Homo sapiens: one gene and its partners. The protein of the gene in region 2 purifies or fractionates together with the protein of the main gene of each other region. This does not show direct contact. Each region holds a gene or a part of one and is shown on either strand. Other genes may lie near its edges.

The links.
Region 1: the proteins of ZNF274 (region 2) and MRPS9 purify together in Homo sapiens (co-immunoprecipitation; one large-scale study listed by IntAct). This does not show direct contact.
Region 3: the proteins of ZNF274 (region 2) and DIRAS1 purify together in Homo sapiens (affinity purification with mass spectrometry; one large-scale study listed by BioGRID and IntAct). This does not show direct contact.

What each region holds. Positions count from the first base shown.
Region 1 is NC_000002.12:105,089,993-105,093,649, forward strand, and holds part of MRPS9 (small ribosomal subunit protein uS9m), read left to right. Parts: coding exon 1-3; intron 4-2,408; coding exon 2,409-2,577; intron 2,578-3,537; coding exon 3,538-3,646; intron 3,647-3,657.
Region 2 is NC_000019.10:58,199,974-58,203,630, forward strand, and holds part of ZNF274 (neurotrophin receptor-interacting factor homolog), read left to right. Parts: intron 1-3,657. UniProt on the Homo sapiens protein: Probable transcription repressor. Specifically binds to the 3'-end of zinc-finger coding genes and recruiting chromatin-modifying proteins such as SETDB1 and TRIM28/KAP1, leading to transcription repression.
Region 3 is NC_000019.10:2,716,189-2,718,498, reverse strand, and holds part of DIRAS1 (GTP-binding protein Di-Ras1), read left to right. Parts: exon of another isoform or gene 1-187; coding exon of another isoform or gene 188-220; intron 221-623; coding exon of another isoform or gene 624-692; coding exon 693-1,289; 3' UTR 1,290-2,310. UniProt on the Homo sapiens protein: Displays low GTPase activity and exists predominantly in the GTP-bound form.

The DNA of each region.
Region 1 (3,657 bases), on a different chromosome or scaffold from region 2:
GATGTGAGTAATTAATCTTTTTAATTTAAGGGGACCTATGCAATAAGAATACAGACAATTGCTGTATTTAGGATCCTAATAGTAATGTTCCTCAGAGGCAGGTGTTCCTACGATGACTTTTCTTTCTTTCTTTAAAAACAAAACAAAACAAAACAAAAAAACAAAACACATTCATCATTGATTTCTGCCTTGGGAGGACCTTATTTGTGGTCAGGGAGGTGACTTGTCGAGTCTCCAAGTCCTCCTCTTGTAAGTGCCCTCATATCCTGTGCCAGTTGTTTTAGGGAAGCACGGCAGATGTTGTTTCATCTCCTTACGTAAGGCCAGTAGCTAATTTTACAAGCTGATGATAAGTGTAAGGAGTCATTATAGGTTAAGTAGAAAAGGGATGCAGCACATGGTTACCTTCATGCAGTTTACTGCTTACCTTGTGTGCCATATCTGTAAGGTCAGTGGTTTTTATCTTGGGATCTGCAAACCACCTCTGTCGGAATCCCTTGAAATGCTGGTTACAAACTACAGTGTCCTAAGCCTCACCCTAGATCTAGCTCAGAATCTCTAGGGAGTTACCGAGGAATCTTTTTAACCAACTTTCCAGGCGAATCTTATACCCTATAAAGTTTGTGACCCCCTGCTTTAGGTCTTAATTGCATTCTTATTTTGTTAAATGTTCTAATATATCAACATTTTCACAGGACAGTTGATGTCTTAAACATTTTGATGTTCCAAATTTATTACTTTCTGGAAGATTGGGGTGTAGATAAATTTCACAAATTTTTCCAAGATGGAGATTTTCTTTGATGGCGGTGGCTAACATTGTTAGTACTTTGCCACCATATATAGATTTTAAGTCATGTACTTGAATTGTTCTTTTTCTCATTTAATGTATTATAGAAATTAATGATTTGGAAAAGTTGCAGTTTGCTTAAACAAAGTGTCAGACAATTGGTTAGTGGTAGATCCAGAGTTAATTTCTAATATCCTAACTGCCAAGTACTGCTCTACTTGAATCTAACTGAAAAATCTCTTTGCTTCTTCACTGAACAAGTAATTTCATTATTTCCTCTGTTTCTGGCTGCTTTGATTTTTTTTTAATAATTCAGGTATTTTTTCTGCTTTGTAATATCCCACGGACTTTAATACAGGTGTACAGCTATGAAAACAAAAGAAACAAGTTATATATGATACTTTGTACTTTGGGGTACTGGATATCAGAAGAAATCCTAATGTTTATGGCTGGTATCAAGATGAGGGATGTGGAGGTGGTCAGTGACTTCTTGACCTAGTTCAGAAGCAAGGCTGAGTTCCACCCATAGTGCCCCTTTGTAGGTGCAGAAGTCATTGAGAGTCTGTGAGATGCAATCAAGAGAGTAGCTGAGCACAGAACGCCCAGGCCAGTGACTGGAGAGGAGCATGGAGCTCTGCCCACCCAATATCCTAGGTAGCTGAGTATTTCACCCTTACTAGAAGAGTGCCTTCTCTTTCATTACATCATAGGAAGCTGTAGTCAAAGTAGTTCTTTTAATATTAATCTTACTGGTGAGATTTTTAAAAATTTCAAACTATTAATGGCAGATTTTTACAATAAAGGCAGTAGTGACAAAGATGAGTGTGATGTTTAACGCCGACAAAAAACATAAATAAGGTTATAAAAAACTGAGTTTCACAATCCATATTAACTAAGAATCTCAAGCATTAGTTGTTTCCTTCTCCATAAACACTTTAGAGTGATTATTCTGGCTTCTAATTTTAAGGGGTTAATTCCAAGTTGTTTACTTTCTAATCACATGTTCAAGAACTATTAAAAAAAATGCACAGAGGAGCAAGGATAATTTATTTCAAGAGGTTGCCCTTTAAGTCAAGTATCTCTTGAATTTTTAAATAGCTTGATTGTTCGGTTTTAAAGGAAATCATAAACATTAAAGTAACACAGCTTGAACAGCCAAAGATATATTTGCCAAATGTATTATGAAATATAATTTAAGAGGTACATTTTCTCAAAATCAAACTCTTTCCATATTACTATACATAACTTACTTGAAATTATTTATAAAGCTCCCCTTGATACAGTTCTAATAAAAGAGAGCAAATTACACTTGAAGATCATCTAAATACTTTTTGAAAGTGAATTTAAATCTCAATTTCATAAACATAATACAGAGAAATTGATTTTTCTTTGAATGATAAATCTCTTTGTTTCTTGAAAGAAAAGATTTGGCACTAAAGATACGCAGGAAAAGTGATGCATCTGCATGCTGTTTTAAAAGCAGCGTGAAGATGCAGAAGTGTCATCCTGTCAAAATTCATCAGGAAAAGCAACATTGGAAAGATCAAGTATGCAAAAAATAGAAAAAATTTAGCAAATGCAATTACACTTGCACCTTCTAATGAATTTTTATTGTCTGCAGTATATGCAGTTCATTCGGCTGCTAGAAAAGTTATTGACATCGCAGTGTGGTGCTGCTGAGGAAGAATTTGTGCAGAGGTTTCGAAGAAGTGTAACTCTTGAATCAAAAAAACAGCTGATTGAACCTGTACAGTATGATGAGCAAGGAATGGCCTTTAGCAAAAGTGAAGGTAATGACATTCTGTGGAGAGAAAATAAATTCAGTGAAGGTTGAAAAACTACAATTATTTTTATTTGCTATTGCTTTCTGGTATCCATTAGATTTTTTATTTGTTTATTTTTGCTACCGTTACTTTGGATTTCCTAATTTTTAAGATTCTGTTGAAGTTTTTCAAAACTGAACTGTATAATATCCTAAGAAAAAAATGTGGATGCATACCTATACAGTCATATTAACACTTTTTCTTTTCACACATTTATATTGTTGAATCTTTTAATTTTCACATTTTAAGCTGCTAGAATCGGTAAAATATTTATAATAAAGTTTTCTTTGCAAAAAATGAAAATGCTCAATGAATCTGCATATCAAATGCCAAAACTATGTAATGTGAAAACTTCACGTCCTTAACTCACATTTTTCTTGTTCAGAGCCATTAGACGTAGTCCAACTTTTACGACTTGAACTATTAAAATATTTACAACTCTTAAAAGATTTCACGTCATTGTCATTTTTAACTACTGTGGTGTTTTCAAAGAAATGTGACCTTTCCTGAGTATTTTTTTATTTCTACTAGTTATATTTCATCATACTATTTATATATTTCTAAAACTTATGTTGTTAGATATATTCTTACTGTTTATAAAAGAAGAATGCTATGTAAATTGGTTGTGGATTCTCGTAAGGGAAATGAATATAAATTACTTTGTTGGTTGTTCAAACTAATTTAAAATCATTGTAGTGTTTCTAAAATGGAATTGAAGAACAAAATTACCCCACAATGAGCTTTATTGCATCTGTTGTGCTGTAGTTTACCTGCTTTATTTTTGTTTGACTTGAAATAATAGTTATAGGACTTGCTTATGTACAGTGTTGTGTATTATTTTGGGGAAACAAATTTTAATGTAGTTTTACCTGTCTCAAAGCGCAGGTCTTCAAGATATTTACTAATAGGAATTTTATATTTTTGAAGGTAAAAGAAAGACTGCAAAAGCAGAAGCAATTGTTTATAAACATGGAAGTGGAAGAATAAAAGTAAATGGAATTGATTACCAGCTTTACTTCCCGATCACACAGGACAGGTTCGTTTTGG
Region 2 (3,657 bases):
GAGAAATGCTGCTGGGGCCATTTTACCATGGGACCAGAAATACAAGTCCCTGACATGGGCTTGGCTGAGAAGAAGCAAGTGGGGTGCAAACTATGTGTGCTTTCATGTTGCAAAGAAGCTGTGTTGAATCAACAAATATTACTTGAGCACTTGCCAGGATTCCAGGTACTGTTCCAGGGCTGGATCACAGTGATGAGTGGGGCAGGTCTTACACCTGCTTTCATTGGGCCTACATCCATTCCATGGCTGATTGGATCAACAAAAATGAAGTTGCCCATTCAGTACCTCAATTGCACTGGGCACCTTTCAACTGCTCATTGGCCCTGCAGCTAATGCTACTATGTTGGACAGTACAGATCTAGAACATCTCATTTATAGAAAGTTCCATTGGACAGCACTGCTCTAGATAGGGTGATAGACATGATAAATTAATGAATCAGATATTTGGGATGGTAATGAGTGTTGGAAAGAGAAGGAAACAATGGGATACATTGGTGGGGGACAAGCGAGGTACGGGTGGGCAGCAGTAGTTCAGAACTAAGTAGGAAGATGGTTCTGAGGAGGTGACGTTTGAGCTCAGACCTGAATGGGAAAGGCGAACCAGGTGAAGATGTTGGGGAAGGTGAACCAGGCGAAGATGTTGGGGAAGACTATACCAGGCAGGAGGGTGGTGCACATGTGGATCTCTGGATGAAAGGCCATATTCTAGGAAAACTAAGATGGTGGCTGTGGGAGACCCCTTTAGCGTCAAGGACATGAAATAACAGGGTTTGGAACCCGGCTCCTTTGTTGCCCACTATGTTAGGCCGTTCTTAAATTGCTGTAAATACCTGAGACTGGGTTATTTATGAAGATAAGAGATTTAATTGGCTCACAGTTCTGCAGGCTGTACAAGGGTGGCACTGGCATCTGGTTGGCTTCTGGGGAGGCCTCAGGGAGCTTTTTACTCATGGTGGAAGGCAGGGAGCAGGCACATCATGGGAAAAGCAGCAGCCAGAGAGAGGAAGAAGGTGCCGCATACTGTTGTTTGTTTGTTTTGTTTTTTTTTTTGGAGACACGGTCTCACTCTCACCTAGGCGGTAGTACAGTGGTGCGATCATGACCCACTGCAGCCTCGACTTCCTGAGTTCAAGCGATTCTCCCACCTCAGCTTCCTGAGTAGCCAGGACTACAGGCACATGCCGCTACGCCTGGCTAATTTTTTTTTTTTTTTTTTTTTGTGGAGATGGGGTTTTGCCATGTTGCCCAGGCCGGTCTAGAACTCCTGGGCTCAAGCGAACCACCTACCTCAGCCTCCCAAGGTGCTGGGATTACAGGCGTGAGCCATTCTGCCCGGCCACACTTTTTTAAACAACCAGATCTCGTGTGATTAACTTAACCACCAGGAGGATGGTGCTAAGCCATTCTTGAAGGTTCACCAGGCCCCACCTCCAACACAGCATCACTTTTCAACCTGAGATTTGGTAGGGACACAGAACCAAACCGGATCATCCACTCTGCAACCCTGGGCAGGGTTCCTAGCCTATCCCAGCATGAATTTCTTTTTTTTTTTTTTCTTTCTGAGATGGAGTCTTGCACTGTCGCCCAGGCTGGAGTGCAGTGGTGTGATCTTAGCTCACTGTAACCTCCACCTCCTGGGTTCAAGTGATTCTCCTGCCTCAGCCTCCCAGGTAGCTGGGACTACAGGTGCCCGCCACCTCGCCTAGCTAACTTTTGTGTTTTTAGTAGAGACGGGGTTTCACCATATTGGCCAGGCTGGTCTCAAACTCCTGACCTTGTGATCTGCCCACCTCGGCCTCCCAAAGTGCTGGGATTACAGGCATGAGTCACCGCACCAGGCATATTTCTTTTGTGTATGGTGTACATTTGCTTCCTGGGACTGTGGGCAGCCTTCGTGAAATGATGGTACTGTCATTGATTCAAAAACTGAGTAACGTAAAGATGATCAGCAGCCTTTGGCAGATCCTCTACTTAGGGGTGTGAGATCCACAAGTCCCAGTTGGCAGCCTCAGTGGTACACTGGAGGAGACAGATGCAGAAGGTAATCCAACAGGGAGCTTAGGGGCACTGAGGGAATGATGAGAGAGAACAGGAGAGCTGAGAGCTTTCCAGACAAGGAGGAAAAGTGATGGGGTACTGTGCCCAGGGATTAGGGGAGCTGAGGGTAAGTACTCTTCTGACTTTTCCCCCACAAGCTGCTAAAAAGATCATTGCTTTTCGTTATATTTTGGACTGGTATACCTGGCTAATCAGCATTCACTGGCAAACAGCACTGTGAGGAAGACAGCTGCCTAAGGCCTGTTTGTCACCCTGGAAGGGAAGCAGCAGAGAGGTAGAAGTATCCTGAGAGAAGAAAATAGTGTCAAGAGGGAGAAAGCAGCAGCTCCCATCAAGCCCTTACCACATGCTGTGCCTGGACTTTGGTATCTCATCACTTTGGGTGAAGAAACTCAGGCTCAAGAAGTTAATCTCTCTTGATTAAACCCCTTGCTTTGAGCCTCAGTGAATTTGTTTCACAACCCATTAGACAGACAGTTGTAGGTGAGGTGACTACATTGCTACGGGCTCATTCAGTTGCTGGACTGAAAGCCATTTGGAGCTCCAGCTGATAGGGATTATGCAGCTCCACATGAGTGGGTTGGGTCAGTCATGTCTGTGGAATGAGATGGGTGGAATGAGAATCCAGTTCCACCTCTGCCTGGTGGTGAACTTAAGAGCTTCCATTTTCTCCTCCATGAAGTGGAGCAGCTAATTTCCTGCAATAGACAGTGGTAAGGATTGCCCTAAAGGTCTTGGGATAGTCTATGGGTTGACATTTGGAGGACTGAGGTGCACAGAATGAGTCCATCACTTCCTCACCAGTTTCTGGGTTTGTGGTCTCTCTGTTCACTGTGGTGTCCTTGGTTCCACAGCATGCAAAAGGTGCTTTATGATAACTGTGTACAGAACAGAGTGTGGGGCCTCATGGGTTAATAATAAAGATTAAAGCAGAAGTAAGTACATTAGAAAGGGGTGGGGTGGAGTAGAAGAATCCAACAGTTGTTTTCCTAGGGGCCAAGGCATGAAAATCCCTCGATTAAGGAATACAAAAATGAAATTTTAGAAATTTATGAAGTAACGTTTAAGATGTTTAAGTGTCATGCATGGTTACCTAAAATAGTACTGGTGGCCCAGTGCTGGTCTGCCACTTAGCCCCCCCCCAGGAAGTACAGATTCAGTTGGTGCATGTCCCATGTCCTAGGCACTTAGTCCGGTGCTGCTGGGCCTCCAGTAAATCTTATCCCCAGCTGCTTCTCAGGAAAAATTCAAGCCTTAAGAGCTGTAATTGGGCTGGGCACGGTGGCTCACACCTGTAATCCCAGCACTTTGGGAGGCCGAGATGGACGGATCACCTGAGGTGAGGAGTTCGAGACCAGCCTGGCCAAGATGGCGAAACCCTGTCTCTACTAAAAATACAAAAATTAGCTGGGCCTGGCGGTGGGCGCCTGTAATCCCAGCTGCGGCTGAGGCAGGAGAATTGCTTGAACCCGGGAGGCGGAGGTTGCAGTGAGCCGAGATCCCTCCACTGCACTCTAGCGTGGGCGACTAAGAGCGAAACTCCGTCTCAAAAAAAAAAAAAAAAAGAAAAAAACGCTGTAATTGAAAGAAAATAAATGA
Region 3 (2,310 bases), about 55 Mb from region 2:
CCAGGGCCGTTGCCCTGGCCGACCGATTCATCACACCTAGGGCTGCGGCCCTGACATATGCATCTTAAACACCCGACCATGTGCGGCTTCCATGAGGATTGGCCATCTCTGGGTTGGCGGAAGAGCAGGGGACCCATGGTTGTTGGAGACGGGCACCGTTTGAGCCACCAAACAGGCTCAGGGTGGCATGATGGCTCGGCAAGGTCTCAGAGCCAGGCAGGTGTGGAGCGAGAGGTGGAAGCCAGGCCTGCTAGCTTCCAGGGGCCCCTGCCACACTGGGAAGAGAGGGGGAAGCTGGCACAGCCTGGAAGGGACACCCACACCCGGGGAAGGAGTTTCGTGGGCATCCCGGCGTCTCCCACGCCTCTCCTAGCTCAGCGTCCCCCGGGGAAGCTCAGGCCCCAGATTTTGTTAGGGAGAAGTAAGCAAAGGGTGTTGGCTGTGCGCCCGCCTGTGGGACAGAACTGCAAAGTCAGCCACAAGCAAATGGGCCTTTTCAGGAGGCAGGAGGCACGGCAGCCACCTCCTCTGAGAAGCCGCCATGTCCTCCTCCCTCCCCGGGGCGTGGGGCTGTCCCCTCAAGCCTGGGTGGCCTTTGACGTGTGACCCTCCTCTCTGCACAGGCTCGGTCTGGGGTTCTTGCAGCTGGCACCAGCCCTCCCGGCCCCGGCCGCCCACCCGCCGCGGGGAAGATGCCGGAACAGAGTAACGATTACCGCGTGGTGGTGTTCGGGGCGGGCGGCGTGGGCAAGAGCTCGCTGGTGCTGCGCTTCGTGAAGGGCACGTTCCGCGACACCTACATCCCCACCATCGAGGACACCTACCGGCAGGTGATCAGCTGCGACAAGAGCGTGTGCACGCTGCAGATCACAGACACCACCGGCAGCCACCAGTTCCCGGCCATGCAGCGCCTGTCCATCTCCAAGGGCCACGCCTTCATCCTGGTGTTCTCCGTCACCAGCAAGCAGTCGCTGGAGGAGCTGGGGCCCATCTACAAGCTCATCGTGCAGATCAAGGGCAGCGTGGAGGACATCCCCGTGATGCTCGTGGGCAACAAGTGCGATGAGACGCAGCGGGAGGTGGACACGCGCGAGGCGCAGGCGGTGGCCCAGGAGTGGAAGTGCGCTTTCATGGAGACCTCGGCCAAGATGAACTACAACGTCAAGGAGCTCTTCCAGGAGCTGCTGACGCTGGAGACGCGCCGGAACATGAGCCTCAACATCGACGGCAAGCGCTCCGGGAAGCAGAAGAGGACAGACCGCGTCAAGGGCAAATGCACCCTCATGTGAGCCCGGAACGCCCGCCTGCCCGCCGCCCACCCCCACTGACCCCCGCTGCCTCCCCCAACACCGACACCCTCCTCGGCCTCCTCCTCTTCTCTCATCCTTCCTCCGACACCTCGGCTGGGGAAACCGAGGCCACCGCCCCCCCCTCCGCTGCCCCTGCCCACCCCGAGGCAGGGCTGGGGCTTTTCTTCCTCCCCTGCTCTCTCTCCACCCTCCTGTTCTGTCTGTACCCTCCAAAACCAAGAGCCGGAGGTGGCCCCCTTGTCCTGCAGATGGGAAAACAGGATGGGGAGCTGGCAAGAGGAGCTGCTTGTTCCCACCAGGACCAGAGGAGGCTGCGTTTCCCCGTTTCCATCTCTTTCCCTGGGGTGTCCCCAGCCAGACCTGCGCGTCCTGTCCCTCACATTTGATCACTGTGACCTTCTGGGGGAGGGGGGAGTTGAAAATGCACATCGGCCTCAGATATTTTTTTCTTTTTTCTCCTATTTGGTGTTAACATACACCCAAGCCCACCCGGCCCGTCGTGACCTCTGATCTGTGCCCACTCCTCCGGTTCCAGACGCACCTCTCTCCTCTGTCTTCACAGTGGGGTGTGGGGCCCGTGGGATGGGCCTCAGGCCACCAGGCAATAACCACAGGGCCTGCAGCAGTGCCCCTGCCAGCCCCGAATCCCACCCCCGGGACCAGCCACATCCACAGCACAACTGCCCCGCTGGAGAGGCACCATGGGCGTGGAGGGGCTTCCCGGACACCGCCCACCCGGGACCCGCCTCTTCCACCAAGACAGAGACGTTAGCAACGCATGGCGGGTGGGGACCTGGGGTGCTCAGGAGGGGGTACCCGGGGCCCCGGCCAGAGATACATCAATTACACCCCCGTGGGGGGACAGCCGATGGGAGCCAGCACCAGCAGGATCCGAGGGCGCCCCGGACAGAGGTCTGCCCCACCCACTTCCTCCCCACCACCTGTGCCCCAGAGAGCAGGGCCTGCCCGGGAAGGTGGCGTCCTGGAGTCGAGTGTACCT